Regions from separate parts of the Homo sapiens genome. Here regions 1, 2 and 3 are each linked to region 4. Evidence: fine-mapped expression QTL. A gene starts in region 4. Each other region holds a variant in brackets. All regions are shown on one strand. Distances are from middle to middle. Region 1 holds the start of C6orf62 (chromosome 6 open reading frame 62). Region 2 overlaps KIAA0319. Region 3 holds the start of LOC124901278 (a long non-coding RNA gene). Region 4 holds the start of ACOT13 (acyl-CoA thioesterase 13).

Region 1 (8,107 bases), 52 kb before region 4:
GTGAGCTGAGATAATGCCACTGCACTTCAGCCTGGGCAACATAGCGAGACTCTGTCTCAAAAAATAAATAAATAAACAAGTAGATAAATAAAAATGGGCAAAAGTTCTGAATAGACATTTCTCCAAAGAAGATATTAGAACAGCCAATAAGCACATGAAAAGATGCTCAACATCATTAATCGTTGGGGAAAGGAAAATCAAAACCACCATGACATACATCATACCCACTAGGATGGTTATACTAAAAAAGACATAATAACAAGAATGTGGAGAAATTGGAATACACTGCTGGAGGAAATGTAAAATGATGCAACAGACTTGGAAAACATCTGGCAGTTTCTCACATGGTTAAAGATAGAGTTAACATATATCCCAGTAATTCCACTCTTAAGTATATGCCCAAGAGAATTAAAAACATACGTCTATACAAAAGCTTTTAAGTAAATGTTCATAGCAGCATTATTTATAACAGCCAAAAGGCAGAGACAACTCAAATGTCCATCAACTGATGAATGAATATAGAATTTCATACAATACATATTATTCCACAATAAAAAGGAATTAAGTACTGATACATGCTACAACATGGATGAACCTTGAAAACATTATGCTAAGTGAAGAAGCCAGTCACAAAAGACCACATATTAAATGATTTCATTTATATGAAATTTCAGAAACGGCAAATCTATAGACAGAACATAAACTAGAAAGAAGAGAAGTGACTGCTAATAGGTACAGGGTTTCTTTTTGGGGTAATGTAATGGCTGCACAACACTGAATATATTAAAAACCATTGGATTGTACACTTCAAGTAGATAAATACGGTATGTGAATTATATTTCAATAAAGCTGTTATTTTAAAAATTCTTCCATGAAGTTGATCATGGATACAAGTCAAGGCCAGGTCAAGAACATATAAGCCGGCTGGGAATGGTGGCTCATGCCTGTAATCCCAACACTTTGGGAGGTTGAGGCAGGCGGATCACCTGAAGATCATACTGGCTTGTATGTCTCATATGTTTGTTTGTTTTTTTTTTTTTTTCCGACGGAGTCTCACTCTGTTGCCCAGGCTGGAGTGCAATGGTGCGATCTCGGCTCACTGCAATCTCCGCCTCCCGGGTTCAAGCGATTCTCCTGCCTCAGCCTCTCGAGTAGCTGGGACTGCAGGCGCCTGCCACCAAGCCAGGCTGATTTTAGTATTTTCAGTAGAGACGAGGTTTCACCATGTTGGCCAGGCTGGTCTCGAACTCCTGACCTTAGGTGATCCGCCTGCCTCGGTCTCCCAAAGTGCTGGCATTACAGGCGTGAGCCACCATGCTCGGCTTACTTTTAAAAATCTTTCTTTTTTAAACCAATGCTCTAAACTACGTGACATTTTCTGTTTTATCTCTGTGAGCTTTCCATAGTTACATGATTTTGAAAACAAATCAGCAAAGCACTAGCAAAATGCAAGCTGTATCTTCCGAGATTAGAAGTTATTTGGAAATCTCAGGACTCATCCTTTGGTTCTGGACAATTTATATTGAAGGGTGGGTACCAGTTATTCTTTTGGCTCATGGCTGAAATAATGTTATTACAGCTGATCTGTTTTGACTTCACGAAGTGAAAAGTAGTAATTGGGGTCCCAATGGACTTCTAAAATCTCAGAGTAGCCAATGAGTATATAAGCATTGCTTATGTGGAGTATTGACCTTTGCTAAGTACTTACATAACTGTGTTTTAAAGAGCACATTAGAGCTTTGAAAAATGGACTCAACGCTTTTTGGTGCCAAGGACGTGCGACTCGGCGGCAAACGTTTCGATGAAGACAGTGAACCACCTAAGGGGCAGGCTGTAGGTCTGAGGTCTTGGGGGATTCTAACAGAAAGTGTGTTCTGACAGCAGTGGGTAAAAATCCACGAGTCAGACTGGGCTGCTCCTCTCCTAAGCCACAGCAGCAACGTCTGAACAACGTCTTTGACCTTGTTCGAAGCTTGAGGACCGCCCTCCCTGCCTGCGCACGTGGCGGGGTGGGGACAGAGGCAAGTAGCACTAACATGAGACATCTGCTCCCGCACGCCGTTTAAATTCCAGGTGTCGAATTGAGTTCTAGGTTTGTTGCCGCAGGATACCGCGGGGCCGACCCCCAGGACTAACTAATTATAAGAATCGAAATAAGAATCTTCCAATCTCCAACACACACTTTCCTTTTCCTTCTTTGCTCCGCCCCTACCCTCGCCCACTCTCCGCCGACTTCCGCAGTTTTGGCCCGCCCAGGTCGCTAGTTCGGCTCTGTCACGCGCCCAGCCTGACTCTGAGAGGCTGACGAGACTCGGGAAGTGCGACTCCATCCGGGTGTTTTGTTGAGGATGGTTGAGGGCGTGCTTTTATGACGACATCGGGGCGGGGCGAAGAGCCAACTCAGGAGACTGGGACTTCCTGAAGAAGGGGGGCGGAAGGAGTGGCGGGGAGCCCCCCCCTTTCCACGCCCCTTGGATACTCCATACTGGAGGAGAGAGGAGTCTCAACTCTCAAACTCCCCTTTTGAGGGGCGATTACTGAAATGGAGAGGTTAAATTCAAAGGCTCCACTTTTAAAAGACCTGTCCCTATTCCGTACTCTTGATCTGTTTTCCTCTTTTTCGGTAACCTTGAAAACTTTCCCACCTCCAATCCTTTCTCCCCCTTTGATTCTGCGCAAATGGTGGGGTCCCGCAGGGCGCGCAGTCGCAGTCACACCGGGGCGGTGCCGGTGAGAGGCGGGTGACGCAGCGGCCGTCGCTGCCATTTTAAGTTGTTTGTTCTCGCTTCTTTTCTCAAACGCGACTCTGCCCCGGACCCGCGAGGCGCCCGAGGCCTTCGCCGCTTCTGCAGCCACCGGCGGGGGGGGGAACGAGGCAGTACTGCCGCGGACGCTCACCAACCGCTTCGGCTTTTCCCCCCTCCGGGTCTCCTCGACCTTTCCTGAGAGCCGGAATCCGACTGTAGGGGGAAGAAAGACTCAAGAGCAGATGCTTGAACTGAAATAACTTTATTTTGGGGGGTTACTTTGCTGACCCTTAGCGCAGGGCTTCCTTTCCCTTCCCCCTCCGCCGCCAGTACCAATCCAACTCCCCATCTTTCTCTTTGTTTTTCCTCTTTTTCTTTTTCTCTCCCTGTTGCCGCTGTCTCCGCGTCCTTCCCCTCCGTTGCCGCCCAGGGCGCCGAGCCAGACTATGGGTCCCAGGTGGGGGCTGAGCGGCGGCAGCAGCGCGGGCGGTCCAGTCACGGTGCGCACTGCAGCGGGGATGGAGGGGCTCAGTTGGCTGGTGGTTTTCTCTTGACATGGCTCCTGCCCGTGCTACCAGCAGCGCCCCCGCCGCCGCCGCCTCTTCCGCCGCCGCCACCGCTCCGCCCGCAGGCTGCGGCTAGAGGGCCCAAACCCCGCCCTAGAGTCGGTCCGTGAGTCCCGGGCTCCGCGGGGACAGGGAGGGGATTTCCCCGTCACCCACCCCGCCCTAGCTGCCTCAATTCCACCCCCTGCCCCTCGGGAAACAACTAACGACCCCACCCTAAACAATCCAAACTCTGGAAACATGGTCTGTTCAACGTGAGAGAGAGCTAATCCGGGAACTTAATTTTTTGGGGGGAGGGTGGGTGGGCTTACTTTAGAAGTAATATTAACACAATTATTTTCTTTTTTTCCCCCACTGAACCTTCCCATTTACCCTCTCCCGCCCACTCCACCCGGGCGGGAATTGTTTCCACGATGAAATGAGTGAAAACCTGAGTGATCCTGTGTCTCCCGTGGTGCGAGTGAGTCGCTGCCGCTGAAGGCAAGGGGTGGGGGTGGGACCTGCGGGGGTGGAAGGCAGGTGGTCTCCGGGCACCGCCTGGGATTTGGGAGAAGAACCCGCCACCTTTGCCTCGGCAATGCTCACAAGAAGATAAATCGCACTCCCCACCATTTTGAACGGGGGCAGATCCACAGGGAAGTCTCCCTTGGGGAATGTAGGACTAGTTGCAGGCTGGGGGTGTTGGGAACCCGGGCATTAATCAGGTCTAACCACAGAGCCGGAATAATTAATACCGTATTATATACCCCTTTTCCTTCTGCCGTCATGATTCTCCTTGGCAGCAGCGTTAGCAGCCGCCTGAGGGTGAAAATGTGGGTGATGGGGAAGTTGGTAATGACTCCGCTGTTTTTTCTCATGGCTCCTTTGGGCCACAGCTGCCCGCCCCCGGTATACACTGTAGTTGATTGCAGGGAAACCCTGTACCTCTCCCTTTCCTTCTCTACCGATTTTGCACTTTTCTCTATGCTCACCACCAAGTGTAATCAATAACAAGCACTGACAATACATAGCAATAGTGAAATCTGAAATAACTAAGAATTAGGTACTACAGCCATGGAGCTGGCTGGGTAAAATCTAATTGGATATTTCAGTTTCATTCACCTACCCTGTTTTGGTGTTTGGTTTTGGTTTTGGTTTTGGTGAGTTTTTTTTTTTTTTTTTTT[TG/G]GAAAGCAAGGATCACACTTCCCCCTCCCTGTTCCTTAATCCCTTTTCTAAAAAGGGGGGAAAATCCGGATGGATTTTAGGGATTGGTCTGGTGTCAGCTGTGTTTTATTGCACACCTAAATCCTGATTATAGGCTTTTCATTTCTCCGCAAAGCCTTTATTTTGGCAGTTAAGCCAAATGTGTTTTCCAGAAAGTTAGTTATTTTCTCCTCTTTCTTTCCTTTCTTTCCTCCCTTTTTCCCGTCTGACCCCAAACGTTATTGTCCAAACATGACTGGACAGCAGCTTTTGTTTCTTGACCCTGTAATATGACAGTCTGCTAATATTGACAGAAGGTGCAGTTTTTGGGTTATAGTCGTGATTTTCGCTAATCAATCATATTAGCAGGAAAAAAAATGACTTGTTTCTGTTGTACTTGAGTCTTAAGAAAAAGTGCCCATAGTTTAGTGACAATTTCCAAAGGCTTTAGTACCACCTGTATTTCAAAATGGGGGACCCAAACTCCCGGAAGAAACAAGCTCTGAACAGACTACGTGCTCAGCTTAGAAAGAAAAAAGAATCTCTAGCTGACCAGTTTGACTTCAAGATGTATATTGCCTTTGTATTCAAGGAGAAGGTAATTTAAAGTTCTTAATGGTGAATTAGCACAAGTAATTTTTGTAAGTGTATATTATTTGTTACTCTTAAATTATTATGAATATTAGGTTAAAGAGTGGTTGAAAAAAAGTCTGCTTTGTATGCTCTGTTTTTTCACCCTTAGGGGTGATTCTGTGAATTGAGCAGTTGCAGCATGCGAAAAGACCCTTGAGCGTTCTTTGGTTTGGAAATAAATTTGAGTCTGAAGCTTAGTAGTAGTATACACTGAGTTGACATGGGGTGGGCAAGATTACAAAATTTTATATGGAGTTAACATGGGAAACCTTATGATGGAATTTAAAGATTATCTAATGTAGAGTATAAATAAGATGGTTGAAAGTGTGAAATTGTAATCAGACTGTTTATATGCTAAAGTTTATCCTGTTTCTTAAACTGCGTAATGTAGGTAACCTTTTCTCTTACATTTAATGAAGTAGAATACACCTTTTAGGAGCAATTAAATACTGAAATGGTTAATTTGTGTTTAGAAGTGTGATTTTCTTTTTTACTTAGAGTTCATTTTGCCTTGTATAGAAGTACAGTTTTTAAAAACTCAAAATGACCTAGAGGAAGTTTCATTTTTAGGGGCGGTGGAGGTCTTAATCAGAATTAGTTCCGCAGTTAAATAGCAAACAGTAAGTTGTGAGTAGTCAAGGATGGGATGATAAGAGCAGTATTTTTTGCAACTTAAAATGAACATTTTCTTAAATTATCAGCAAGGCTTATTTGACCAAAGATGAGGTTATGAATGTAAGGAAGTGCTACTTGGATTTTGGTGCTTAAATTGTTAGCTAATTTCAGATCAGAAATACAATCTTAGTGTGGTATCTATTAAGTATCTGGAAGTTTTCCAGGTTTCCCCCTACTGTTTAACTCTTATTATTTTTGTTGCTGAGACAGGCCTCACTGTATTGCCCAGGCTAGTCTTGAACTCCTGGGCTAAAGTGATCCTCCTGTCATGGCATTTTAAAGTGCTGGGATTACAGGCAGGAGCTGCCACGCACAGCCCCAACTCTTAACTCCTAAAAGGTTATTTGTATTTAAGAACATTCTTAGCTGCTGAAGTATAGCATTGTGAAGTGATTTTTAAGTAATTTTTGAAGTGACTGTCCCAAGATTGGGTGGTATCAAGGACTTACATCTCCACTTTTGTTTTGTTGACAAGCTGACTCAAAATTGATGAGATTGGATTTTAGTTGAAGATGATACAGTGTATGCTCTTTAAATAAATCCAAGATAATAAGTAGTGAGACCATATCTTTGTATTTAATCTATATATTGCCCCAAATTGCACCATCTTAATTCTTTAACACCAACGATAATCTGGTTTTATTCTGTGAATGGACAGTGTCCATGCAGTTGCCCTGAATAATTCATGATATATACTTAATAGTACAGAATTTTAAAAAGTAGTTTAGTGATGCGTACTTGGTCTTGAGTAGTATTAAAAGAGAACTTGGTGTGCTTCTTTTTAGTCTTTCAAATATTGATGGTTTTGGCTGGGTGCAGTGGCTCACGGCTGTAATCCCAGCACTTTGGGAGGCTGAGGCAGGCGGATCACTTGAGGTCAGGAGTTCAAGGCCAGCCTGGCCAAATGGTGAAACCCTGTCTCTACTGAAAATACAAAAATTAGCCAGGTGTGGTGGCGCAGGCCTGTAATCCCAGCTACTCGAGAGGCTGAGGCAGGAGATCCCCTCGAACCCAGGAGGCAGAGGTTGCAAGTGAGCCAAGATGGTGCCACTGCCCTCTAGCCTGGGCAACACAGTGAGACTCCATCTCAAAAAAAAAAAAGAAAAACCAGAAATATTGATGGTTTTGATAATGTAATATTGAGAAAGTAATGGAAATTGGCCCATATAAGGAATAAAACTATTCATTTGTCTGAATAGCGTTGTTTTAAAACTGGTGAGATTTTTAATTTTAAGAAGTATTGTCCAAAATAGTGCTATGGATACCATTATGCTATAAAACTCAAGCATTAAACATTCTAATGACAGTTTGTACATGTATGGTTGGAGGGGGAGGTAGGGGAAGAACAGAAGGAATTACCTATCTGAAAATGTGTTTTCAGTGTATAAGTTACTGCAGACAGTTAAGAATTTTGTGGAGTTAATGTTACATGACATTGTAATATGAACTGAGTGTTAAAAGGCTGTGCTCCCTGTGGGTTAATACACCATTTTCTTTTCTTCTAGAAGAAAAAGTCAGCACTTTTTGAAGTGTCTGAGGTTATACCAGTCATGACAAATAATTATGAAGAAAATATCCTGAAAGGTGTGCGAGATTCCAGCTATTCCTTGGAAAGTTCCCTAGAGCTTTTACAGAAGGATGTGGTACAGCTCCATGCTCCTCGATATCAGTCTATGAGAAGGGTAAGTTCTGCCTTAAGTCTTGACTTGATAAAGTTTCTGTGGATTAACCTTGCATTTCCCCGCCCCCCGAACCCCCCTTAAAGTGGATAGTTATGATAGTGACCAGTCTCTTCAGGTAAATTTGTCTTTGTGCCATGTTGATAACTGGGATCATGACTTTAAAGCATTGTGTTTATAGGATTAGAAAAACACGTTTTTTTACGCCAGACCATTCTTATGTGGATGAAGTATATAAAGGGATTTCTTTAATCTGTGTTAGGTGTTGATGATCTCGGACTTTTTTTTTTTTTTTTTTTTTTGAGACAAAGTCTTGCTCTTTCGCTGAGGCTAGAGTGCAGTGGCATGATCTTGGCTCACTGCAACCTCTGCCCTCGCGCATTCAAATGATTCTCCTGCCTTAGCCTCCCGAGTAGCTGGGACTACAGTTGTGCGCCACCATGCCTGGCTAATTTTTTGTGTTTTTAGTAGAGATGGGGTTTTGCCATGTTGGCTAGGCTGGTCTGGAACTCCTGACCTCAAGTGATCCTCCTGCCTTGGCCTCCCAAAGTGCTGAGATTACAGGTGTGAGCCACTGCACCCTGCCAGTAGCCAACTGTTTTTAATAATTTAAGTGTTATGCAGA
Region 2 (8,107 bases), 82 kb after region 4:
GGGGTGGAAGGAGGTGTGGGGCAGAAACATTCAGTCCATTGAACTGGTCAGTTTAGGGGCTACTATAATTACTTTCTCATTCTTTGAGTGTTTGTGTGAGTTCACCTATACTAATTGTCCAACCCACAGTTGCCTTATGTTTCTAATAGACAGCAAAGAGAGTACTTGAGAGAGATGGTCTAGAGTTCCAGAGTTTTGCAATATTATTCATGGTTTTTCAAACATTACCAAAGCTAATTTATGAAAAAGGTTGGTAACATTGAGTTGCTTGAAGAGTTGGACTGTTTTTTTTTTAATAACAATTTATCCTTGTAATTGATCTCGTAGGTTCTAATGCCTTCCCATAGTCTTCCTCCGGCAAGCCTGGAGCTCAGCTCAGTCACCGTGGAGAAAAGCCCAGTGCTCACAGTCACCCCGGGGAGTACAGAGCACAGCATCCCAACACCTCCCACTAGCGCAGCCCCCTCTGAGTCCACCCCATCTGAGCTACCCATATCTCCTACCACTGCTCCCAGGACAGGTAACTTTTAAAAAATACAATTTCAAGAAATGTACTGAAGACAGGCTGTAGAATTTGGTGGTGACAACTTTTAAAGTTTACTCATTCCCTCCAGGCACATTTTTCAGCATCTATCATGTGCCAGAAACGGTGCTGCATACTGGGAATAAAAAGATGAATAAGACATTGTCTTTTCCCTCAGGGACTCCATAGTCCAGGAGAGGAGACTGGCAGGTAAAGAGGTGGTTCTGATACAATATGGTAAGTGCTGTGAGAGGCTGCTGTGGGAGCAGAGGGGCACCCTGATCCACTAACAGGGTCCAGGGATGCCTTTCCAGAGGAGATGATGCTAGGATAGAGTGAGCCAGCAAAAATGGCATTGGTCTGTTGTTCAGGTGGAGGGAGCAACATGTTTCATAACAATCGTGATCATTGTATTTACTGAGCACTTACAGAGTGCCAGGCAATATGCTCAGTGCTTCCCATCCATCATCTCTCATTCATTGCCTGTGCAAGAAAACAGAAGTACAAGAGCTCACGGGACATTTCGGAAGAACTGTAAGGGATTCAGTATGGCTGGAACTGGAGTGGTAAGCAGGACAAGAACTGGAAAGATCATGTATTTTGTGCTAAAGATTCTGCACTTTCCTGGATGGGTATAGAGAATCCCTGAATGGTTTTAAGCAGGAAAGCAAAATGATCAGATTTGTATTAAGAAATAGTGTGGGATGAGCCCGGTGGCTCACGCCTGTAATTCCAGCCCTTTGGGAAGCCCAGGCGAGCAGATCATGAGGTCAGGAGTTCAAGACCAGCCTGGCCAACATGGTGAAACCCCATCTCTACTAAAAATACAAAAAAAATTAGCTGGGCGTGGTGGCACACACCTGTAACCCCAGCTACTTGGGAGGTTGAGGCAGGAGAATTGCTTGAACCCAGGAGGCAGAGGTTGCAGTTAGCTGAGATCGCTCCACTGCACTCCAGCCTGGGCAACAGAGCAAGACTGTCTTGAAAAAAGTAAAAAATGAATAAAAAGGGACCAGGCACGGTGGCTCACGCCTGTAATCCCAGCACTTTGGGAGGCCGAGGTGGGTGGATCATGAGGTCAGGAGATCGAGACCATCCTGGCTAACAGAGTGAAACCCCATCTCTACTAAAAATACAAAAAATTAGCCAGACGTGGTGGTGGGCGCCTGTAGTCCCAGCTACTTGGGAGGCTGAGGCAGGAGAATGGCATGAACCCGGGAGGCAAAGCTTGCAGTGAGCTGAGATCATGCCACTGCATTCTGTCCAGCCTGGGCGACAGAGTGAGATTCCGTCTCAAACCAAAAAAAAAGGAAAAAAAAGAAAATAGTGTGGAGTTGACTAGAGGCAACAAGATCCATGAAAAGGCTATGGTGAATGGTTGCAGAGATGGAGGGAAGGAACCAGATTTAGGAGACAGGAAGGGAGCAGAGTCACAAAGATTTGATAAGTGATTGAATGAATGTAAGGATGTGAAGGAAGAGGACGCTAAGACATATGAAAATACAGAACTAAAATTAGATGAGCAGTTGGGCTGAAGATAAAGGATTACGAGTCATCGGTGTGGAGGTGATAGTTGCAGACACGGGGGACATAGGAGATCATCCAGGGAGAGAGGGGGGTTAGCTGAGGAGAGGCCTGAGGACTGGAACTTTGGGGACATTGTTCTATAAGGAGCTGGAAGTGCAGAAGGAGCCTGCAAAACTGATTGGGTAGTTGTGCCAGAGAGGTAGGAGATAAAGAGGAAAGCTAGAGGGAGAGAGTTCTATGGAGGAGGATAGAATAAGTTTCCATCTACCCTTCTAAGTTCTAGGCTAGTGCCCCTGTAACAAAAGATAGATTAACAAGAGAGAAAAAAAAAACAAGTTTATAACATGTACATCTTACCTATACGTGGGAGATGCCCAGGGAAATGAGGAAATCTCAGAGAGGTTTATTATATAAGCTTATATTATATAAGCCTGGAACTCTGGCTTATATAGCATCTTGAACTAAAACAAGGAAAGAGGATTGTGGGGAAGGCAAGTGGCCAAAGGTGCCCAGAATAAACGAAGTAAGCAAGAGTGAGGTTCATTATGCAGATTTGTCAGGACCTTCTCTATGGATGTGGATCTCTTGGAATGTAGTCACCCTTCTCTTCCTGGTATAGAAGGAGAGAGACCCTTACAAATGGAGATTTCCTTTATAGATATAAATTCCCCTTACAAAGGAGTAACTTCTACTCTGTTTTCAGAGCTCCTCTTGGTCTGCTGTTTCTTCAAAACAAACAAACAAACAAACAAAAAACACAGCTCAAAATAATCCTTGTATAAAAGAGTTATAGTTGCAATGGCATATTCTAGTTTCCTACAGTCTGTGAACCAAAAGTATCTGAGACAGGTCTCAATCAATTTAGAAAGTTTATTTTGCCAAGGTTAAGGACTCACCAGTGACACAGCCTCAGGAGGTCCTGATGACATGTATCCAAGGTGGTCAGGGTACAGCTTGTTTTTTTTTGTTTGTTTTGAGACGGAGTCTTGCTTCGTGGCCAGGCTGGAGTGCAGTGGCGTGACCTTGGCTCACTGCAACCTCTGCCTCCGAGGTTCAAGAGATTCTCCTGCCTCAGCTTCCTGAGTAACTGGGATTACAGGCACCCATGACCATTCCCGGCTAATTTTTGTATTTTTAGTAGAGACAGGGTTTCTCCGTGTTGGCCAGCCTGGTCTTGAACTTCTGACTTCAAGTGATCCACCTGCCTCAGCCTCCCAAAGTACTGGGATTACAGGTGTGAGCCACTGTGCCTGGCCACCTTGGTTTTATACATTTTAGGGAGACATAAGACATCAATCAGTATGTGTGAGATGTACATTGGTTTGGTCCAGAAAGGCATGACAACTGGAAGGGGGTCTTTCAGGTCATAGGTATATAAGAGACAAATATTGCATTCTTTTGAGTCTTTGATCAGTCTTTCACTGAATACACAATTTACTTGCCAGAGGGGGTAGAGGAATAGTCACTTATGCCTTGTCTGGCTCAGTGAATCTGTATTTTTTCATAAACAATAGGGCAGAGGAAACAATTAGATATGCATTTGTCTCAGGTGAGCAGAGGGATGGCTGAGCTCTTTCCCCCACCCCCTGCACCTGTGAAGATAAGCTATTGATTTACATTGCCAGGGTGAAATTCAACAAAACTGTTTTAGGGCAAAGATCTTGAGGCCCACAAGGAGTTTCTTGTGGGCAAATTATAAGGAAGGCATGTAGCTTTTTTTTTTTTTAATCTTTGTAGGTATCTCGTTTAGGAATAAAATGAGATGCGGGTTTGCCTGACACAGTTCCCAGCTTGACTTTTCCCTTTGGCTTAGTGATTTGGGGGTCCCGAGATTTATTTCCCTTTCACAAATCATATTTTGGGGTGGCATGTTCTGGTCTCCTGTAGTTCCAAAAGGGAAGACGTATCAAAGCTCCATGTGTCGCAGAGGCTGTGGTGAGGATTGCAAAGCTTCCATTAGATTTTCCAATAAGGAAGTTATTAGAATATGCTAGACGTAAGGGTCATGTTTCCTGAGCTTTTCTGTGGGCCATGTATTTTGGAGATTACTCTCTCTAACTTTTGTATTTACTTTGAGCCTGAGCTTCCATAGAGAGAAAGATAATAGTGGGAGAGAAGCTGTGTAGTATACGGAAAAAGAAACTGGCCTGGGAGTTTGGCCCAGGATCTTTGGGTTTTAATAGAACCTACTGCATACAGTTGTAATGAGGATTAAATGAATTGATCATTTTAAAGCCCTTGGGGCAATGCCTGGCACAGTTTAATCCGGTATATAAGTGTTTGTTGAAATGAATACATTTAAATTAAATATTGGTGGACCTATTGCTAATTACCATACAGCCTTGGACAACTTTGCTTTTCTAGGATTTAATTTCCCCACCTATAACATGATAGGTTTGGATCAATGTCCCTTCTAGGTCTACAGTTGCTGACTTTCAGGATAAAGAGTTAGTGAAAATGACAAGAGAGGAGCCAGCAAAGCCACTGAGAGCCTCTGCAGCTGATCTAGGAGGCACTCGAGGGACTGAGGACTGAGAGGAGGGGAGTGGATTAAATGAACAACCTGTCTGACATCTCCTTGCAGCTGATCCCTCTGGAGCACTCAGCTTTTTTTTTTTTTTTTTTTTTTTTAAATCTTTGCTTTTCTCTGTGTAGTATCTGGACATATCGCAATATATTTTACAAGTGAAACTAATGTCCAATGGAGCCAAACCGATAGAATTTATGAATATATCAATGTAATCTGGTTACAGAGAAAGTAAACAAGTATTGTTCTGAATGCTTACTTGGTGGCTAAGCACTTTTGATAAGAGTTAATGTTCCTGCTGCTTAAGTTAAAATAGGTTTTTTATATTGAGGGTGACTGGATTTTGTCTTGGAAAGGTTCCAAGTACAAGGCCATTAGCAGTAATTCATGAGGCTAC[T/C]ATCAGAACTGAGTGGAGTGTGACTAATGAGACAGAAACACTTAGGATTACACTCAATCTTTTTATAACTAAAAATAGCTCACACCAGGGCGTCAAGAAAAGCTGATAGCAAGGGAGAAAATGGACCCAATTCACAGTTGCATGAAACCTGTTTCACGCAACTCTTGTCACTCAATACGTTGCTCAGTCAATTTGAATCATTATTTTTGTCACAGTGCCAACTCATATTTGTGGTTTAAAACCCTGTACTATAATATAGTGTACAGTTCAATTTCTAGCCAGAGGAAAAACGTGCCTTAGCTAAAATCTTATGAAGAACTATTACAAAAGCATATGTTATTTTAATTTATGGATACCAAAAACAGATCTAGTGTAGAGCAGTAATGTAACACATTATATTATATAATTGCACGTATTATTTCTAATTAACTTTTAGTGAAAGAACTTACGGTATCGGCTGGAGATAACCTAATTATAACTTTACCCGACAATGAAGTTGAACTGAAGGCCTTTGTTGCGCCAGCGCCACCTGTAGGTGAGAGTTTAACCTTCCTCCCTGACCACTAGGAACTGGGGTGTTTTTCTTCAGCAGGTCCTTACAGGCTATTTACAACGCCGATTCTTTTTCACAGTATTGCACGACGTCACAAACAAAGGTGGAGGACAAGGCTTTGATTATTCTTAAGCATCAACATTTGTTGAAATAGTTTCAAATGGAGTAAGAATCTAGGAAATTAAATACAGTATATATCGTTTAATTGGTCAGGATGGAAAGTCATAAATTTCTGATGATGCAAAGCAGATCAGGAGAGGCTGCCACGTACCAGTTCTTGAACTGTAATAACCCATAGAACCTGGGAAGATTCCACCGGGATGAGAGGGAAGTGGCGTGCACCCATAGGTTTGTTTGCAGATACTGTGGCATTGACAATCACGGCTCTCAGGTTCTCAGGATGCCTCACACTAGCTGCTCAAAAAAATTTATTCAAAATGCTCTTTCTTCTACTTGTCCAGTGCTCTACCATTCAGTAAGCATTTGACCTGGGACCTGTGGCCTGTCAAATGCATTGTTTTTAAGGTAAACTCATTCTTAAGGTGTTTGACTATTTCTCATTCAGGTTAGTTCCTTAATTCATTTTTTTCTCCACCACATATTGGTCAAAATTTTATACACAGAGATGATAATATTTGGCATTTGCATTTTAATCCTTTGAGGTGAGGTACCTTATATTTTAACTACTAATATCTGCAGCTGGGAGACAGTTTCATCTTAACATAGACATGTTTATACTGTTTTTGTGTCCTTAAATAAACCCCTACAACAGATCAAATGAATTGAAATCTCCTTGCCTTTTGTTAAAAAGAGAAAAGCACAATGTATTATACTATGTTAAAACTGATATGGATAGTCAGATGTAGCCCCCTAGGAAAAAACTCATCACATACTAATGGTTAAGTTAGGGAGGTTTTTTTTTTTTTAACTTTATACATTTTAAAAATTTCCTGTAAGACGTATGTTTTTATAACAAAAAAAGAAATGTTACATTAAGAAGATACATGTTATCTTGGCTGATAGTTGAAAGTCAAGTTCATAAGATGATAACAAGAGTGAGGGGATAAAAACAAATAAACAAAAAATATATATATAAGTTAAAAAAAAAAAAGAAAGCTGAGTTGAGTATATCTAAGGTAATCTGCACTGGTGGTTTAAAGGCTGTCATCTTCCCTCTGCCCAGGTTATCTAGTGTCCTCTCAGAATTTATAACTACTCATATTTATTTTTTGCTCTCAGAAACAACCTACAACTATGAATGGAATTTAATAAGCCACCCCACAGACTACCAAGGTGAAATAAAACAAGGACACAAGCAAACTCTTAACCTCTCTCAAGTAAGTAACTGGAGACTGGTTGTGTCTAACAGCACAGCGTAACGGCATAGAGCTCAGTTAATACCTTCTTAGCTACTGAACCCAAACGTCTTTCTTCTTTTTGGGGACAGAGTCTTGCTCTGTTGCCCAGGCTGGAGTGCAGTAGCGCAATTACAGCTCACTGCAACCTCTGCCTCCCGGGTTCAAGTGATTCTCCTGCCTCAGCCTCCTGAGTAGCTGGGATTACAGGTGCACGTCACCACACCCGGCTAATTTTTTTGTATTTTTTGTAGAGGTGGGGTTTCGCCATGTTGGCCAGGCTGGTTTTGAATTCCTGACCTCAAGTGATCTGCCCTCCTTGGCCTCCCAAAGTGTTGGGATTACAGGCATGAGCCACCACGCCCAGCTGCAAACATCTTTCTCATGGTAAGATCAAAAGTAGGATATGAATGAATAAAGTTTCAGGCATGCAAGTAGGCAGGCAGATGGTTAAGAGGCTTTGGATGGCGTTTCTTTATTTGGGTTACTTAGTATATCTCAGTTTGGGGAAAAGAGCCTGGTTGTCCCACAAGCATTGCAGAGAGGTTAAAAACCTGTTGTAACTCTTGCTCTCCTTGCAGTGTTAAGGACATTCTACTTATCTCTGGTTCTCAGTCCGGCACATCTCTAGAGTTGCCAATAATTCCATTCCAGGTCACAATTTGCCCTATCACATATTGTTCTATGATACAAGCACTCACAAGAAACATGCCCTCTTTCTGGCCTAGGAGGATATATAAACCGACTTAGCGACTAGAGATCTAGTCTCCTACCAGATGATTATGTTGACTTCATCTCCTGGGACCACACAGCTAATGGTACAACACAGACTTGCATCACCCTCATGTCATGGAGCTGTGTTTCTCAAAGTGTGGCATCCAGACCACCGGCAACCAATGCACCAGAGCTAGGTGGTAAAAATGCATGGTTCCATACACACATTTGAGAACTGCTGCCCTCTGCTGGTCCATCTCACCCAGGCCTCTTTGAAGCCCTCTGCAGCGAAGCTAAAGGCCTGTCTAGGTGATCTTTAGTGCTCCAGAATTCAGGCTTCAAACATGCGGCAGCCTCTTGACAGATCCAAATGAGACTGTCTCCTGAGCCCCTTCTCTATGCTGACTTTAGGAGTGCGGCTTCTGGGACATTTTAGCTTTTTCTACGTAGTGGACCCATCACGTCTTGCATGTTGAACTGTACAACTTTTCTTTATGTTACAGTTGTCCGT
Region 3 (8,107 bases), 25 kb before region 4:
TTCACATCTCCCAATCACTAACTATATATGAGTAACCTCTAGGTATGACTCCCACCAGGAAGACATTTGAGAGTTTCACAAACCACCTATTTAGTGGTTTTATTGTTGAAGGCCCTGAAGGAAAACAGAACCACGCGATATAAAACATCCTAAACAATATTATGTCATGTTTTGCAAAACAGGTAAATCAATGTCAAAAATAAATTTTAGAACAGGATTTTTGTTGTTGGGTTTTTTGTTTTTTGTTTTTTTGTTTGTTTTTTGTTTTGAGATGAAGTCCTTTTCTGTTGCTGAGGCTGGAGTGCAGTGGCTTGATCTCGGCTCACTGCAACCTCTGCCCTCCAGGTTCAAGCAATCCTCCCGCCTCAGCCTCCCAAGTAGCTGGGATTACAGGCACATGCCACCACACCCAGCTAATTTTTGTATTTTTAGGAGAGATGAGGTTTCACCATGCTGGTCTCGAACTCCTGACCTCAGGTGATCCACCCACCTTGGCCTCCCAAAGTGCTGGGATTAGAGTCGTGAGCCACCGCGCCTGGCCTATGATCGTCTGTTTATAGCAATAAATGATCTAGCCACAAGATGTCCTCATAAACTAAATAATACACACCGAGCAGGAATAAGGTGTAAACTTAACCTCATTCACACATTTATGTGATTCTTTATAGCAGGCATTGGCAATGTAAAAAATGAATGAAGTTTAATCCCTGCTCTTAGCGGGTTCAGTGTCTAAAGGAAGAGACAAGTACAAAAACTGCAGAGGAAGAAACTGTTGTAGACAGAATAAATACAGGTTTCTTGGAGTAAAGATATCTAACTTTTAAAAATGTATATTTCCAGGGAAAAGACATTAGGAAAGGCTTCCTGGAGAACGACATCTGAGTCTTGAAGAACAGGCAGGAGTTATCCAGGTGAAGATAAGGGAAAAAGCCAGGCAGTTGAAGAAATAGAACTAAATACGAGCGGCTTGTAGACAGCAAAGGTAGTTTTAATGTGTTGTTTTTGTTTTTGTTTTTTGAGACAGAGTCTCGCTCTGTCACCCAGGCTGGAGTGCAGTGGTGTAATCTCGGCTCACTGCGACCTCTGCATCCCAGGTTCAAGTGATTCTCCTGCCTCAGCCTCCTGAGTAGATGGGACTACAGGTGCGTGCCACCATGCCTGGCTAATTTTTGTATTTTTAGTAGAGATGGGGTTTTGCCATGTTAGCCAGGTTGGTCTTGAACTCTTGACCTCAGGTGATCCACCCACCTCGGCCTCCCAAAATGCTGGGATTACAGGCATGAGCCACCGCGCCTCAGTTTAAGTGTATTTTAAGGCACAGTTTGTTCAGTAAAGCTTAGTTCTTAAAGTTCCATTTGATTACCTAACTTTGGCTGGGATGACAAAATGTAAGACAAATGTCAGTTAGATTTTTCTAGTACAGAATACTGGTTTTGATTTTTCCCCCCAACTTGAAAGGCCAAAGGACATACTAATAAAATTGTTTTAAAATTTACATTGGAATAGAGAGAATTTTTTACTGGGCAGCCTGATATGGCAATATAAATGCCTTTATATGTTCTCAATTCTTGTCTCCTCAGGTCAAATAAGAGAATTAAACCAACGGAAGATGATGAAGGAATGTCCTGCCCACCCTCCCAGAGCTAATAAGTAGTCTTGCTGGGGAAGAGGCCAATGCAAAGCTAACTTCTTTCTGATGAGGAAGGGGAGTAGGGAGAGAACCTTGTGAAAAAAACATCTCAGCCTTGGTAAAGATGGGCTGTAGGGCACACACTTGTTTATTCAGTTATATCAACATAGCTAACTCCATGTTAGAGACCATGCTGAGCAATTTGACATGTGCTGTCTCAGTGCTGCCAATGTTTGAAGTGAATACTATTGTCTCCATTTTACAGATGAGAAACTGTCGAAAAGTTTAACTAGGATGTCTCAGGTTTAACCATTATGCAAAACAGCCTACCCTCAAATATCACCTGGACTGCTACAGACAACTGGGTTCTGATTCCTTAGGTGTCTTGGTGAAGATGGTATGGAGGCTTTTATGATGTCAAGGGGTCAAAAATTTACCTGCCATGGCCTAACAATACAGAGAACTGTCCAGATGTGTTCAGTCCCAGGATCCTGCAGGTTGGACAATTGCAGTAGGTTGGCAAGAACTTTTATGGCTCAGCACTATTTGCCACAATGGGCTCCTCAGTATATCATAACAATTCTTACATGTACACACACATATACAATAATCTGTCCCTTTTATATATGGCCTTATATCGTGCTGTCTCTTCCTTGCACTTCATGCATTCATATGAGTTTATGCAACTTCGTCTGTGTAATCCCAGCACTTTGGGAGGCCGAGGCAGGCAGATCACTTGAGGTCAGTAGTTCAAGACCAGCCTGGCCAACATGGTGAAACCCTGTATCTACTAAAAATACAAAAATCAGCCAAGCATGATGGGGCACACGTATAATCCCAACTACTTGGGAGGCTGAGGCAGGAGAATCCCTTGAGCCTGGGAGGTGGAAGTGGAGGTTAGCCGAGTTCGCACCACTGCACTCCAGCCTAGGCGACAGAGTGAGACTCCGTCTCAAAAAAAAAAAAAAAGACTCAGGTTGCCATAGCCCCTCACCCTCCCTCTCCCATCTGAGATACAATTCATCACAAAGAGACACTCCACATGACACAGAGTCTCTCCTTTCCTCACTTTTTCAGCAAAGATAGATAGGGAGAAGGGCTGCCTAATAACAGCAGTGAAGATGCTGTTATTCATCACTGAGATGGTCCTTTATGAAGCTGAGAACCAAGAATTCTCTTTAAGCCTTGGCATCTCAGATCATTCTGGTCTTTTTTTAAAAGGGTTGCATTCTGCTGAGCAGTGGGATAAACAAGCCACTGCCATCACTGTAACTGCTGCTGGCTGCTATGCAGCTCACCACCACTGCCTCCACTGCCTCTGCTAAACAGATAAAGGAATGTATGTCTCTGGCTCAGTAAGGGTGTCTGTAATGGGCCTCAAGCACAGGAGTGTGACATATGGTATGAGAAAATCTGTGTACATAAACACGTGAGCCACCCCCAAAAGAAGACTGTCTACAGAAGCACAAAGAAAAACAGACAATCTTAATGGATGACAATTTTGTATGTGTATATTTGTGAATAAGGCTGTTTTCAAGCAATTTTCCCTGACCATGGATGTTGCTAACTTTGTGTGTGACACTGCAGATGACAGGAGGTGTGTCTAAGGACAGTGTATGAATGCACCTTCATATAAGCAGGAAAGGAGGTAAAAAGACAGGATGTGGCAGTGTGATGGGGTAGCAACAGCAACAAACACAGATGACATTTATGTTCAAGGGGCTCTAGAAAGGTAGATGCTATAAAAGTACCATGGTTCAACCATATTGCTGTTATCAGTCCAGCATTTCTGCTTTATAATGTATGTTTCAGTAGCTTCATTACACAGGTGGCTTCCGCTTAATGGTT[G/A]AGAGTACTGGCTCTGGAAGCAGACTTAGGCAAGACCCTGAACTGAGGTTTCCCCATTGATAGAGATAATGTACTGTACTGCCCTTATAGGGTTTTGTAAAAATTAAGATTAAAATTCAAATTAGGACAAGGCCTGGTATATCACAGGTGATCAAAACATTTTAATTTTGGGAGACTGAGGTGGGAGGATTGCTTGAGCCCAGGAGTTTGAGACCAGCCTGGGCAACACAGCAAGACCCCAACTCTAGAAAAATTTTTTAAAATTAGCCAGGCATGGTGGCATGTGCCTGCAGTCCCAGCTCCGAGGGAAGCTGGGGTGGGGAGGATCGCTTGAGCCCAAGAGGTCAAGGTTACAGTAAGCTGTGATCGTGCCACTGCACTACAGCTTGGCTGACAGAGTGAGACCCTGTCCCCAAAACAACACCACTTTAATTTGCATCCTTATTATAAAAACTATTATCAAACAGAAACTTTGGTTTGTATAGTTTGGCATGAATTTTCTTAAAATTATTTCTATTGCCGAGGTCAACTATGACCTAACTACAAAACTCAAAGGACCCTTGGCAGCCTCTCTTTCCCTTAAGTGACCTCTCAGCATTTGGTGACGTCGTGAACTTTTCCTAGCCTTCCCTTAACTCCCATGACACCACCTCCTCCTGGTTTTCCTCCTACTCTCCCAGCCACTCCCCAGTCTCCTTTGCTGGCTCTTAAGTCTTAGAGTTAACTAGTCGTTCAAAGACCAGACTTGATACTGGACTCACTCAGAAGGATATAGGATATATTTCTCTCCTGAGCTGTTGCAACTGACTTCCAATTTATCTCCCTATTTCTGCCCTTGCCACCATCCCCATGTTTAGTCTCAATAGTAGCTACAAGAATGCTCCTTTGAAAATATAGACTGCTTGACAGAAAACAACAGTGCAAAAGTGATATGCCTTCAGCATGATCCTTGACTTTATGTTCAGATGAAACTATTGTTAAGTTGAAAGTATCTCAATTTATGATGGGCTTATCCCAATGCGACCTCATCGTAAGTCAAAGAGCAGCTGTAGAAGTCAAATTATGTTACTCATCTGCTTAAAACCCTCTCTAATGGGGCCCTCAAACAATGGAAAGCACAGCAATGGAAAGTCTGAGGGCCTTTACACCTTCTGTTCCCCTTCCTGGAACACTCTCCTCCTTCAGTATTCATGACTTTCTCAGGTCTTTATTGAAACGTCACTGTTTCAGTGATATCTTTCCAGATAAGATTTAAAATTGAATTCTTAAAAAAAGAACTTACAGGAATACACATCTTGGGGCAGGGTGGGGGGTGGATTTAAGTTCTCCTGCACCAATACTCTCTATCTTCCACCTTTATTTTCCTTTATAGCAATTATCACCATCTAACATACTATATATTCTCTTTACCTATTTTGTTTAGTGTTTGATTTGCTCCACTAAAATAGAACTTCCATTGCGTGCAGGCGTTTTTGTCAGTTGTGTTCACTGATGTATCTCCAGTACCTAGACTAGGAATGTTTTAGTAGCTAAATACATTCCTAAAGGAATGTATGTCTCTGGCTCAGTAAGGGTGTAGGCACATAGTAGGCACTCAAATATTTGTTGAGTGAATGAATACACTGAAACCTGAAGGTCAACAAGGAGCATTCTATAACAATATGCCCAATATTTAGTGGCTTCAGCAACTAACTGAACAAACTATGGGGAGAATCTTCTATGTAAAAGGCATTCAACTGGGCACCTTCCACTAGGCACTAAAGTTCCCTTTGACAAATGGTTATTAAGCATATGGACTTGGCTCCCAAGGAAAAAGTATAGAGGGAAGACAAACAAATCAGCAGATATTTTCAATAATATACAGAAAGTTCTATAACAAAAGTTAGTCAAGGTGTAGAAGTAGATCAGAGGAAGACATTTGGGGCTGCCAGGGAAGCCTTCTCAGAGATAGCAGGTGTCACCTGCAAAGGACTTTGAAGGATAAGTGAAAATGGCAGGCAAATGGGGCAAGGGTAGAGGATCCAAAGGTGAGTACGATGTTGCCCTAATCCTCAGGGAGTGTACAAAACAGCAAGGGTTATAAGAGAAGGCCAAAAATAACAAGAGTTGGCAAACTAATGCCATGGGAAGCAAAACAAAGCCCTAGGGAAGAGCAAACAGGAATTAAATTAAATATTCCCTGAAGGTTAGTTAGCTAAGCTTAAGTAACACTCTTTTTGTTCACTGAGATAGTGGTGGTGGTGACAGATATGCTACAAAAGAATAAAAACAATTACTATCCCACTAAAACAAAGTTTAATGATTAAAAAAGAAATCACTATATTTTTCTTCCCCAAAGGCTGGTAAGTGGCAGATTTTATTGAATCATTCTGGAATGCCTATAAAGGTGGGTGCTCTGAAGGCCTCTATCACATGGATCTTATTGGCAAGACTTCTCTGATACACAGGTTCTCTACTGCCTTGAACCTGGGAAAAGGGGGCTGACAGGGAAGGAGCCTTTCTTATCCTGTCTTCCATAGATTGAGGATTTGGGAAATGCTTGTTCACACTTCCAGTTCTCCTTTAAAGAGGGAAAGCGCAAATTGTGTAGAATTTTTGCAATTGAGCTTCAGTTTGGAATCTAGTACGGTAGTTCCCAGGAGGGGATGATGCTCTGAAGGAATGCAAATCTGGCAAATCAAGGCCAGGGGAACAGCCCATTAGTCATACAAAACAAAACAGGCACAAAGAAGTTTAAATCATCTCTGTTCACTTTGTATGCTACAAAGTCCTGGAACTCCTAGGATGGCCAAGTAAAAACTACAGTTTTTTCTTAGTGCTGTTTTTAATTCAGCAGTAGCTCAGAGGATCTACATAGAAAGAACTAAATCTTGACTATGTTCCATGGCAGAGAAAATGTATTCATCATTTCTCTTGAAATTGGTCATCCATTCACTACTGCTAAAATTAATTAATTTTATAAAATACTTATATTTGCTGTGAGTTTATGCCACATTCCTTTCCTCTAAAATATGAATAACTCTTGAGTTCATTACTTCACTAATTGTATGCTGATTCCTTCAATCCTATCTCTGCGCCATCTAACTTACTGTTTTTATTAGATTTTTAATTATAAAAATAAAAACATTCATTTTACATATATAAAGCAGCATAGAAGTACAATTTCCTACCTACTACTCTTTCGGTGCTGAATATCATTCTATACCATTCCCTAGGCTTACTCATATATACACAGGGTATACAAAATTTTCTTAAAGGGTGTTTTTCTTGCCTTTTATTCAATTACAAAAATGGGATCATATTATATACATTACTTGGCAGCTTTCATTTTTCTCTTCCCAATGTATCACAGTCATTTCTCTAGCTCAATTTATTTATTTTTAATTTTTTTAGAGATGGGGTCTCTCTATTTTGCCCAGGCTGGACTCAAACTCCTGGGCTTAAGTGACCCAAAAGGAGAAGGCACGCCACCATGCGCAGCCTCCAGCCCAATGTATATAGATCTCTTTCAATAGCTGTGTGGTATTCCCTACTATGAATATACTACAATTTATCAAACTATTTCTTAAAATGTGTTATTTCTATATTTTTTTTACCATCACAAAGATGCTTTATTTGTATATGACAGACTGACAAAATTAGATAGCTGGGTATTAAGAGTATATATTTTAAAGTTTGTTTTTTTTTTGAGACGGAGTCTTTTTCTCGTTGCCCAGGCTGGAGTGCAGTGGCACAATCTCAGCTCACTGTAGCCTCCACCTCCTAGGTTCAAAGATGCATATTACCTTAATTTTTACACTCTGACAAGCAAAACATAGTATCTCATGGTTTTAATTTGCATTAGCCAGACTCACAGTGCTTTTAAGCATCCTTTAATGTTTATTGCCTTTTTTCTGTGAACAGCCTATTTATGTCTTTTGTGCCTACTTACCTATTACAGTCTGTCTCTACAGTTCTTTTTACCTATCAGATTTTAACACCAATTCATATGGTGAAATTCCAGACCGTTGTATTTTGACTTTTATTGTATCTCTCGCCATAAAAAGATGAGTTCAGATGAACAAAGTGCATAGTGCCTGACACATAGTGCTATGTAGATGTTTTTAAAAATAAACAATTGAAATTTCTAAGTTTTTAAGGTGCACATCATTTAATGACATGCTCCTGTTAGTAAGTCATTTTTAAGATGTGACTTATAGTAACACAGGACTCAGTCACATGCAGTTGCTGTGATTTCTTTTACTAATTCTCCCATGGTTGGACATTTAGGTTATTTCCCCTCACACAATTTTTTTTTTTTTTTTTTTTGAGACAGGGTCTCACTTTGTTGTCCAGGCTGGAGTGCAGTGGCATGATCATAGCTCACTGCAGCCTCGACCTCCTGGGCTCAAGGGTTCCTCTCACCTTAGCCTCCTGCACAGCTGGGGCCACAGGCACACACCACCACACCTGGTTAATTTTTTTATTTTTTTGTAGAGATGGGATCTCATTTTGTTGCCTAGGCTGGTCTCAAACTCCTGGGCTCAAGCTATCCTACTGCCTTCACCTCCTAAAGTGTTGGGATTACAGGCATGAGCCACCATGCCCAGCTATTTCCCACTTTTGATATCACAAATAATGCTGCAACAA
Region 4 (8,107 bases):
CTGCCCTGTGTCCAAATGTTCTCATTGTTCAATTCCCAACTATGAGTGAGAACATGCGGTATTTGGTTTTCTGTCCTTGTGATAGTTTGCTGAGAATGATGGTTTCCAGCTTCATCCATGTCCCTACAAAGGACATGAACTCATCCTTTTTTATGGCTGCATAGTATTCCATCGTGTATATGTGTCATTTTTTCTTAATCCAGTCTATCATTGATGGACATTTGGGTTGGTTCCAAGTCTTTGCTATGGTGAATAGTGCTGCAATAAACATACATGTGCATGTGTCTTTATCGTAGCATGATTTATAATCCTTTGGGTATATACCCAGTAATGGGATGGCTGGGTCAAATGGTATTTCTAGTTCTAGATCCTTGAGGAATCACCACAGTGTCTTCCACAATGGTTGACCTAGTTTACACTCCCACCAACAGTGTAAAAACGTAACTATTCCTCCACATCCTCTCCAGCACCTGTTGTTTCCTCTTGAATGCAGGTCTCCATTAACTTTGGAGATTGTTACATGAGAATAGAGGAAAAACTTTCAGAACTCATGGAGAGCTAAAATGCTCATGAATATCAAGCAGAATAGGAATTAACTAAGGGGACTGAACTAATCTTTTTGACTTTTTGCTTAAACATTGCTGATCTTTTGCTTTGTTTTTCAGAGCCTTGAAACTTTTCTTTTGAGCTATTGACAGCTTTTAACAATTTAGTATACTCCAATCAACAAAATTTGGAGCATATTTGTTTCTCTCTACCTGATTTCTCCAGAATTTGTAAACTATTTGTGAGTATTCTTAACTTGTGCCAATACAGTTATTTGCATAAGTGCAGTAAGAATCTGTTTTCATTTGTAACAGGACACAGTTGGAGAAACTGATTATTTTACCAAGGCTTTGAGTGGAAAGGTGTACTTTCCTTTAAGTAATCAAACCTGACTTATGGAGCCAATAAAAGCCCTTGGGAAAACTGGCCTCACACTTTACAAAGTCCCTGTACAGGGTTTCTGATATGTGCTAAGTAAAGAATGTCATTTTCTGACAGGTCCAGGAGCCCCTGGTTTATCATGGAACATCAAAAAGAGGAAATTCACCCTACTCATAGGTATTTGATGGTACAAATCCATGGCTGAGCTTGGCTTTAAAAAGAATCTTATCTGAGATTCCTTCTATGGAACAAAGTTCCTTCAAAGCCAATTTTAAAAAGCCTATGTGAAAAATAATTATTCTTGCTACACTTTATATAAATAATCTGGTCAAATATAATAAAGCAAATCAGTCCTACCATGATTTGTCTTTAGTAAAAATGGAAAACTGGAGAGAGAAAAATTGTTTCAAAACTTACAGTCCACTTGTTGTTAGATACTAGTCTTGCCTAATTTTTTCAATTTTTATTATTTTCTACAGTTTAGGCTGAATTCTAATTTTTCCTGGCTACAAGTCTCCAAAATAATATTTTTAATTTTTTTCTTTTCTTTTCCTTTTTTTTCCTAATTAGGAGTCACTGAAAACAGCTGTGCTTTTGTAAAGCCCTGCAAACTGAAGCTAGACAACTTAAACTTCAGAAGAAAATAACAGCAACCTATTTACACGCATAAGCCACTTTCATACCTGCCTACTGATGTATGGACTTCAGAATAACGTGGCCTATGTATATTTTCCAGGATTGTTCTTTTGTTTGTTGTTTTTCACCCTTCCTCCCCCTATTTTCTCTTCACAAGACATGGGAGTTCACAGCCTTCTAAAAATTAGCTTTCCTAATAACTTGGGACTTACCTGTCTAGGAATAAACCATCCTAGCATGAGCGATCAGATGAAATCTGGGACCAAAGACTCATTTTTCTTCTAAAATGCTTTCTCCAAAAAAAAATTTTTTTTAAAAAAAAGAAAAGGGGGCAAATGTAAAGGAAAATATCTTGGGCCCCCAAATCACTAAGTTAAAAGGAAAATTCAAGCTAGGAACTACTTAAGACAAACTTGCCTCCCATTCTATTCAAAGTCATCCCTCTGCTCATTGAGATAAATGTGTATCTGACTGCCTCCTTAGGAAAGGTAAATCAGAAACTCAAAAGAATGCAACCATTTGTCTCCCACCTACCCGTGACCTGGAAGCCCCCTTCCCGCTTCAAGTTGTCCCGCCTTTCCGAACCCAACCAGTGTTCATTTTACATATATTGATTGATGTCTTATATGTCCCTAAAACGCATAAAACCAAGCTGTGCTCTGACCACCTTGGGCACATGTTGTCAGGACCTCCTGAGGCTGTGTCACTGCGTGCGCATCCTCAACCTTGGCAAAATAAACTTTCTAAATTAACTGATACCTGTCTCAAATTTTTGGGGTTCACAAGGTTTAGTTATAAATGCTTCTTATGGAGCATGATTTTCTTACAAGCGAGGCAGGAGAATCGGATCTGGAGGCAGGGAACCTAGGGCTGTTTCACGCTGACTTCCTAGAACTAAATTGAAAGTAAAACCCTAACTTCCCACACCAAGTAACAAAAGAACCAGAGGCTTCTCCCTTTCCAAACCCCCACCTTTTCTGTGTGGCAGATGGGAAATTGAAAGTACCTCTGATTGGTTGCAAAAAGCAAAATTACGCTAAGAAGTAAGTTATCCCTTAAAAAAAATTATTCTTTCTGCAACCAATCAGATCTTCCCATAGGAGTGTAACTATGTAACTTCACCATCTGATTGCACGCCACGTCTTCGTTTGCATATAAGGGCAACTTTGTAACTTCACTTTAGCCTTTCATTGGTTGCTTTTCACAGCCAATTGTGGGTCACCACTTCATTTACATGAGATGAGTACCAAGTGGCCAATAGGAGACTTCAATGGGGTATTAGGGCCCCTGAGCTGCTGCTCCACACCCCAAACACAGGAGTGTCCTTTCATTTTCAGTAAATCCCTGCTTTTGGCGGGGCATGGTGGCTCATGCCTGTAATCCCAGCACTTCGGGAGGCCAAGGCAGGTGGATCACCTGAGGTCAGCAGTTTGAGACCAGCCTGACCAACATGATGAAACCCTGTCTCTAATAAAAATAAAGAATTAGCCAGGCTTGGTGGCGCATGCCTGTAATCATCCCAGCTACTTGGAAGGCTGAGGCATGAGAATCACTTGAACCCAGGAGGCGGAGGTTGCAGTGAGCCGAGATCGTGTCACTGCACTCCCGCATGGGCAACAGAGCAAGACTCCATCTCAAAACAACAACAACAACAAACACCTTCAAGGTCTGGCGTGGCGGCTCACACCAGTAATCCCAGCACTTTGGGAGGCGGAGGCAGGCGTTTCACCTGAGGTCGGGAGTTCGAGAGCAGCCTGACCAACATGGAGAAACCCTGTCTCTACTAAAAGTACAATATTAGCTGGGCATGGTGGCGCATGCCTGTAATCCCAGCCACTCGGGAGGCTGAGTGAGGCAGGAGAATTGTTTGAACCAGGGAGGTGGAGGTTGCAGTGAGCCGAGATCGCGCCATTGCACTCCAGCCTAGGCAACAAGGGCGAAACCTCATCCTAAAAAAACAAAAACAAACAAACACCTTCGGGCTTTGTGAGTGCTGGTCTCAGAAAAGCACTCAGTCTTCCTCCAAGGGCTAACTTACTTCTTCAGGAGTTGGGTGCCTTTGAGAAATTTCCCAAACCACTACAGAGGAACAACTTCTCCCTTCGTTCACCACTCTACCAAGCACTTGGCTTTTGTACCTTATTGCAATTATTTATCTTCTAATCTTCTAGAGCCTAGAGAATTAGACTGTAATGTGCCTTAAATGCAGAGGTTTCTCTTACTCTTCTCTGGAGCAATGCAGACGTTTGTTGGTTGAAGGATCAAACTCCAAAGTCCCTCCCAGCCTTGGAACTGTCTCCACGAGTCATAACCATACTTATCTATGTTTAGATAGAGAACTTACGCGTTCGACCCAGCATATTTAGGGGCTCCATTAAAGTAATAATCATTATTACTAAGGTGAATTTACAGGCGTACTAGAACACAACCTAACAAGAGATAATTATTCAAAGCTCACAACGGCACCAAGCACGGTGCTTTCTTTTCCTTCATTAGAAGCCACGGCTTCTCCCCTACCTTTCCCATACCTTTCCCAAAACTCTCTCAAAATTGCGAGCCTTGGTCATGGCCTTTATCACCTCCCGCAGAGACTGAGTCATGCTGGTCATCGTGGACGGTTTTCCAGCCTTTGGGCTTTGCGCAAGAACGAACTTCGGAAGAGCTGGAAAGTCCAGAAGTTAGTGAAAGAAGGAGGACACAAAGGGCGAAGAGCCCGCACCCTTCTCCGCCCCTAGGAGCGCAAGAGGCCGGGAGTCAGGCGAGCTGGCAGCCCCGGTGGTCCGCGATTTGCTCACTGACTTTCCTCGCACCCTTGTGACGAAGCGCGCATGCGCGCTTCGCACCCACCGCCCCGGCGGCTCCCTTGCGGCGCAGCTGCACCAGTTTTCCGAGAGCAGCGCATTTCCCCGCCGGGCGGTTGATGCGGGAGCGCCATGACACAGGCGCCTGCGCAGAGCCGCGCGTTGGCCTCCTGTTCCGCTTAAAGGGGCGGTGCAGAGGCGGCAGGAAGATGGAGTTGGGGAGTTGCCTGGAGGGCGGGAGGGAGGCGGCGGAGGAAGAGGGCGAGCCTGAGGTGAAAAAGCGGCGACTTCTGTGTGTGGAGTTTGCCTCGGTCGCAAGCTGCGATGCCGCAGTGGCTCAGTGCTTCCTGGCCGAGAACGACTGGGAGATGGAAGTACGCTTTCGCTGTCCTCGCTTCCGGCTCCATTACCTAGGTCGGTGGAGCGCACAAACCTCATCCCTTGTGCCTTTGTTTTTCAGAGGGCTCTGAACTCCTACTTCGAGCCTCCGGTGGAGGAGAGCGCCTTGGAACGCCGACCTGAAACCATCTCTGAGCCCAAGACCTAGTAAGTGATGAGGGGAGCGGGAGCCAGTCCGCACGGAGGCAGTTTGATACCAGGTAGCCCTGCGCGTCCTGGGACCTGCCGTGGAGCTGGGCGGACGATGCTGAGGCAGATCTCCAAGCTGCGTAGCCAGAGGAGCAGGGCTTGCGTTGCTGCTGCTGCGCGGAGTTGCGCCCCAGCAGCGGATCTAACACTGCACCAGACTGTCGCTTCGAACGTGATTTGGGGTCCAGGGAGGAAAAGATGGAAATGTAATGTTTAACTCAAATGAAAGGAAATAAGTAAGCGAGAGGTTTGAAACAAATGAACGAAGGCTAAACCTTCTATCGAAAAATGGCAACTTGGAAGTCTCCTTGCTTCCTGTATTGTTTATTTATTCTAGGCCCTAGGCTGACCGGCCAGAATAACAGGTTTGTTGTTGTTGTTATTTTTTTTTAATGCACACCTACTCCTGTTATTTCAGTGCCCCTCTCCAGTTCCTGCACTTAAAAAGTGTAGCTGCCTTACAAGGCCCTCTACTATTTGGCTCCATAACTTAGAACCTGCCTTTCCAGGTTCCAGGCCTATCAAACTTTTACTTTTTTCCAACGGGTCATTTTCTCCTGTCTTTGAAACTTCGTAAAGATCTTTATTACCTGTGCCTGGAATTTTTTTCTTTTCCCTTCCTTGCTAATATTTGTCTTAAAGCCCCAAGCTGAGACATGATTTATCTCTAGGAAGCTTTTCCTGATGTCCTAAGTCTGGGTAAGAGTCCCCTTTTAGGTACTCTTATAGCATCCTGCATGACCCCTGTTACAATACCTTAGTCCGTATTATAATTGCTGTTCATTATTTTATGTCTCCTACTAGACTGCACATCTAGTAAGGAGTATCTGTTTTGTACATTGTTAATTTCCCAAAGTCTGACACAACATTTGACACATAATAAGCTCCCAATAAATATTTACTGAATGTATAAAATTCTCCCAGCTATATGTACAACCTGTAAAATTGACTGTTCATAGTGGAGACTTTATTTTCCCTTTGGTCTTTTCAGCTACACTGGCTTACAGATGTGATAAGATATTTTCTTTAGGTTCCTTTCTCTGTCTTGCCTCTTGTTGGGGAATTGTTTACTCACCCACAGTGATTTGTCTCTGGCTCCCGTTTTACTAACCAGAGCAAGTTGGACTAGGAGGTGTTTGCCTAGCTCAAACTGGCCAGTCAGATCCTCTCCTTGGTTTCAGAATTAGGACCAAGAGAGTCAAGTCTGAGTCTTCCTATGGAGCTGGAACTGTAACATGTTAACTTAGCACCTGTGAGGATTCATACATATCTTTTTTTGTGTACAGAGAAGCTGAGAACAGAGGTCTGCAGAGAGACAATGAAGCAGAGGGAAGTTGAAGTGTAGGATTGAGAGAAAGCCCTTAACTGCCCTTCCTTAAACATGGCTGTATTTCTGTACCAGGCTCTGTGACATGTTTGTTTCCTTATAAATTCTCCTGTTTTGGTCAAACCAACCTGAGTTAATGTCTGTTGGTTGCAACAGACTATATTGTAACCAATAAATAGTAACAAAATAAGTGGATTTCCTGTAATAGGCCCTCAGAAAAGATGCGGATCAAGCTGATCAATGGTGTCATGGCTATTAGGATTCTCTTACCCCGGAATGGTAAATTGGCAAAAACAAGCAAAGGTGTTGATTAGGCTGTGGTCTCTTGTCTCTCAGAACTCAGGTCAAGTATGAATGAGAGTGAGGTTTTAAAGTTTAGTTTGCTCAAGAGAGAAAAATGGGGAAGGGGCAAACTTCAGCGTGTTTCTAAGGCCTGTGACCTGATTAGATTTTTGATGTTGGCTTTAGCAAAAATGAAAGGGAAAAAAAAATTGATTGGAAGATTTTATGACCAGAAAAACTCAACCCTGCTGAGCAAGGGCATTGGCTGTCTTAAATGAATGGCGCAGGAATCTCAATTCTGGAGTGAATTCCTGGGATATCAACAAAAATTGAAATTGAACACTAAAGTGATTTAGTCCCCTACATTAGAATCTATCTTCAGTGTCTCTGATGAGAGACAAGGGAAATCCTCTTAAAACAGCTATGCTGAATCTTAGCTGCATATTGGAATTATCTGGGGAATTTAAAAAAAAAACCAGAGATTCTAATTTCATTAGTCTTGAGTGGGGCCCATTATTCCTTATTGGCTTTTTTTTTTTTTTTTATTAGCTGTGCAGGTAATTCTAATGCAGAGCCAGCATTGAAAGCCCGTGTCCCAGAGCCTTGTTATTTAGAGTGTGGACTCTGGACCAGCAGCGTGCCACTGCTACTCGGGAATTTGTTAGACATGCAGAATCTTAGGTCTCACCCAGACCTACTGAATCAGAATCTGTATTTTGACAAGATCTCCAGGTGATTTAAAATTGAGGAGCACTGGCCTAACACATAAAACCTAAGACACCAGATATACTGACAAAAGCACTTCCTCCTCTGCTTAGGAATGAAGTCAACAAATCATGCCCCTAAAGTTTGCCAGTCCCTTTCTGTTCCCTTAGTATTTCTGTACAGCAACGTTTTAGAGTTTATTTCCCTTTTCATTTTTCCAAAAGGAAATTTTTAATACAGTTGCCTGGTTTTTCTTGCTGCATTAAATATTAAATATTGTGGGTGTTGCATAAATTGCAGAGATATTTGTATTAGGTTCTTGTGTTGCTATAAATACCTGAGACTGGGTAATTTATAAAGAAAAGAGATTTAATTGGCTAACAGTTCTGCAGGCTCTACTGGAAGCATGGCCCCAGCCTCTGCTGGGCCTCAGGAAGATTTCAATCATGGCAGAAGGGAAAGGGGAGCCCAGGTATCACATGGAGAGCGCAGGAGCAAGGGGGTGGGGTGGTGCCACATACTTTTAAACAACCAGATCTTGCAAGAAGAACTCAGTATCGTGAAGATAGCACCAAGACATTAATGAGGGATCTGCCTCCATGACCCAAACACCTCCCACTGGACCCCACTACCAACATTACGGATTATATCTCAACATGAGATTTGGAGGGGACAAACATCCAAACTATATCAATATGGAATTGGATTACAATGAAACAGAGGAGGAAAGGATGGCATAGTGAATAAGAGCATGGACTCTGGAGCCAAAATGCAAAGGTTATAAGTCCACCTGTGCTATTTAGTAACTGTGTAACTTCTCTCTGCCTCAATTTCTTTGTGC

Evidence for each region. PIP is the estimated chance that this variant, and not a neighbour inherited with it, causes the effect.
Region 1: its variant is fine-mapped to the expression of ACOT13 in whole blood (INTERVAL, PIP above 0.99).
Region 2: its variant is fine-mapped to the expression of ACOT13 in atrial appendage (GTEx, PIP above 0.99).
Region 3: its variant is fine-mapped to the expression of ACOT13 in subcutaneous fat (GTEx, PIP 0.96).

What each region holds. Positions count from the first base shown.
Region 1 is chr6:24,715,526-24,723,632 of GRCh38, reverse strand. It overlaps C6orf62 (chromosome 6 open reading frame 62), which reads left to right and starts at 4,479. Exons shown (of 5, transcript NM_030939.5): 1 at 4,479-5,093; 2 at 7,309-7,485. The coding sequence starts at 4,965. RefSeq lists enhancers at 1,636-1,725, 1,776-1,825, 1,417-2,210, 1,956-2,705, 3,005-3,798 and a silencer at 3,266-3,435. The variant TG/G (reference allele first, on the strand shown) is at 4,477.
Region 2 is chr6:24,581,006-24,589,112 of GRCh38, reverse strand. KIAA0319 reads left to right here. Exons shown (of 21, transcript NM_014809.4): 4 at 328-520; 5 at 5,411-5,509; 6 at 6,767-6,864; 7 at 8,100-8,107. Among named protein-coding and RNA genes, the nearest start is that of KIAA0319, 61 kb to the left of the region's middle. The variant T/C (reference allele first, on the strand shown) is at 4,975.
Region 3 is chr6:24,688,219-24,696,325 of GRCh38, reverse strand. All of the region lies in intron 1 of ACOT13 (acyl-CoA thioesterase 13), which reads right to left. It overlaps LOC124901278 (a long non-coding RNA gene), which reads left to right and starts at 555. Exons shown (of 2, transcript XR_007059508.1): 1 at 555-982; 2 at 1,581-6,619. The variant G/A (reference allele first, on the strand shown) is at 3,479.
Region 4 is chr6:24,663,329-24,671,435 of GRCh38, reverse strand. It overlaps ACOT13 (acyl-CoA thioesterase 13), which reads right to left and starts at 4,359. Exons shown (of 3, transcript NM_018473.4): 1 at 4,092-4,359. The coding sequence starts at 4,172. TDP2 (tyrosyl-DNA phosphodiesterase 2) reads left to right here and starts at 4,537. Exons shown (of 7, transcript NM_016614.3): 1 at 4,537-4,738; 2 at 4,825-4,910. The coding sequence starts at 4,574. It overlaps LOC124901279 (a long non-coding RNA gene), which reads left to right. Exons shown (of 2, transcript XR_007059509.1): 1 at 1-787; 2 at 1,498-2,319. RefSeq lists enhancers at 4,321-4,615, 4,147-4,818, 4,819-5,491.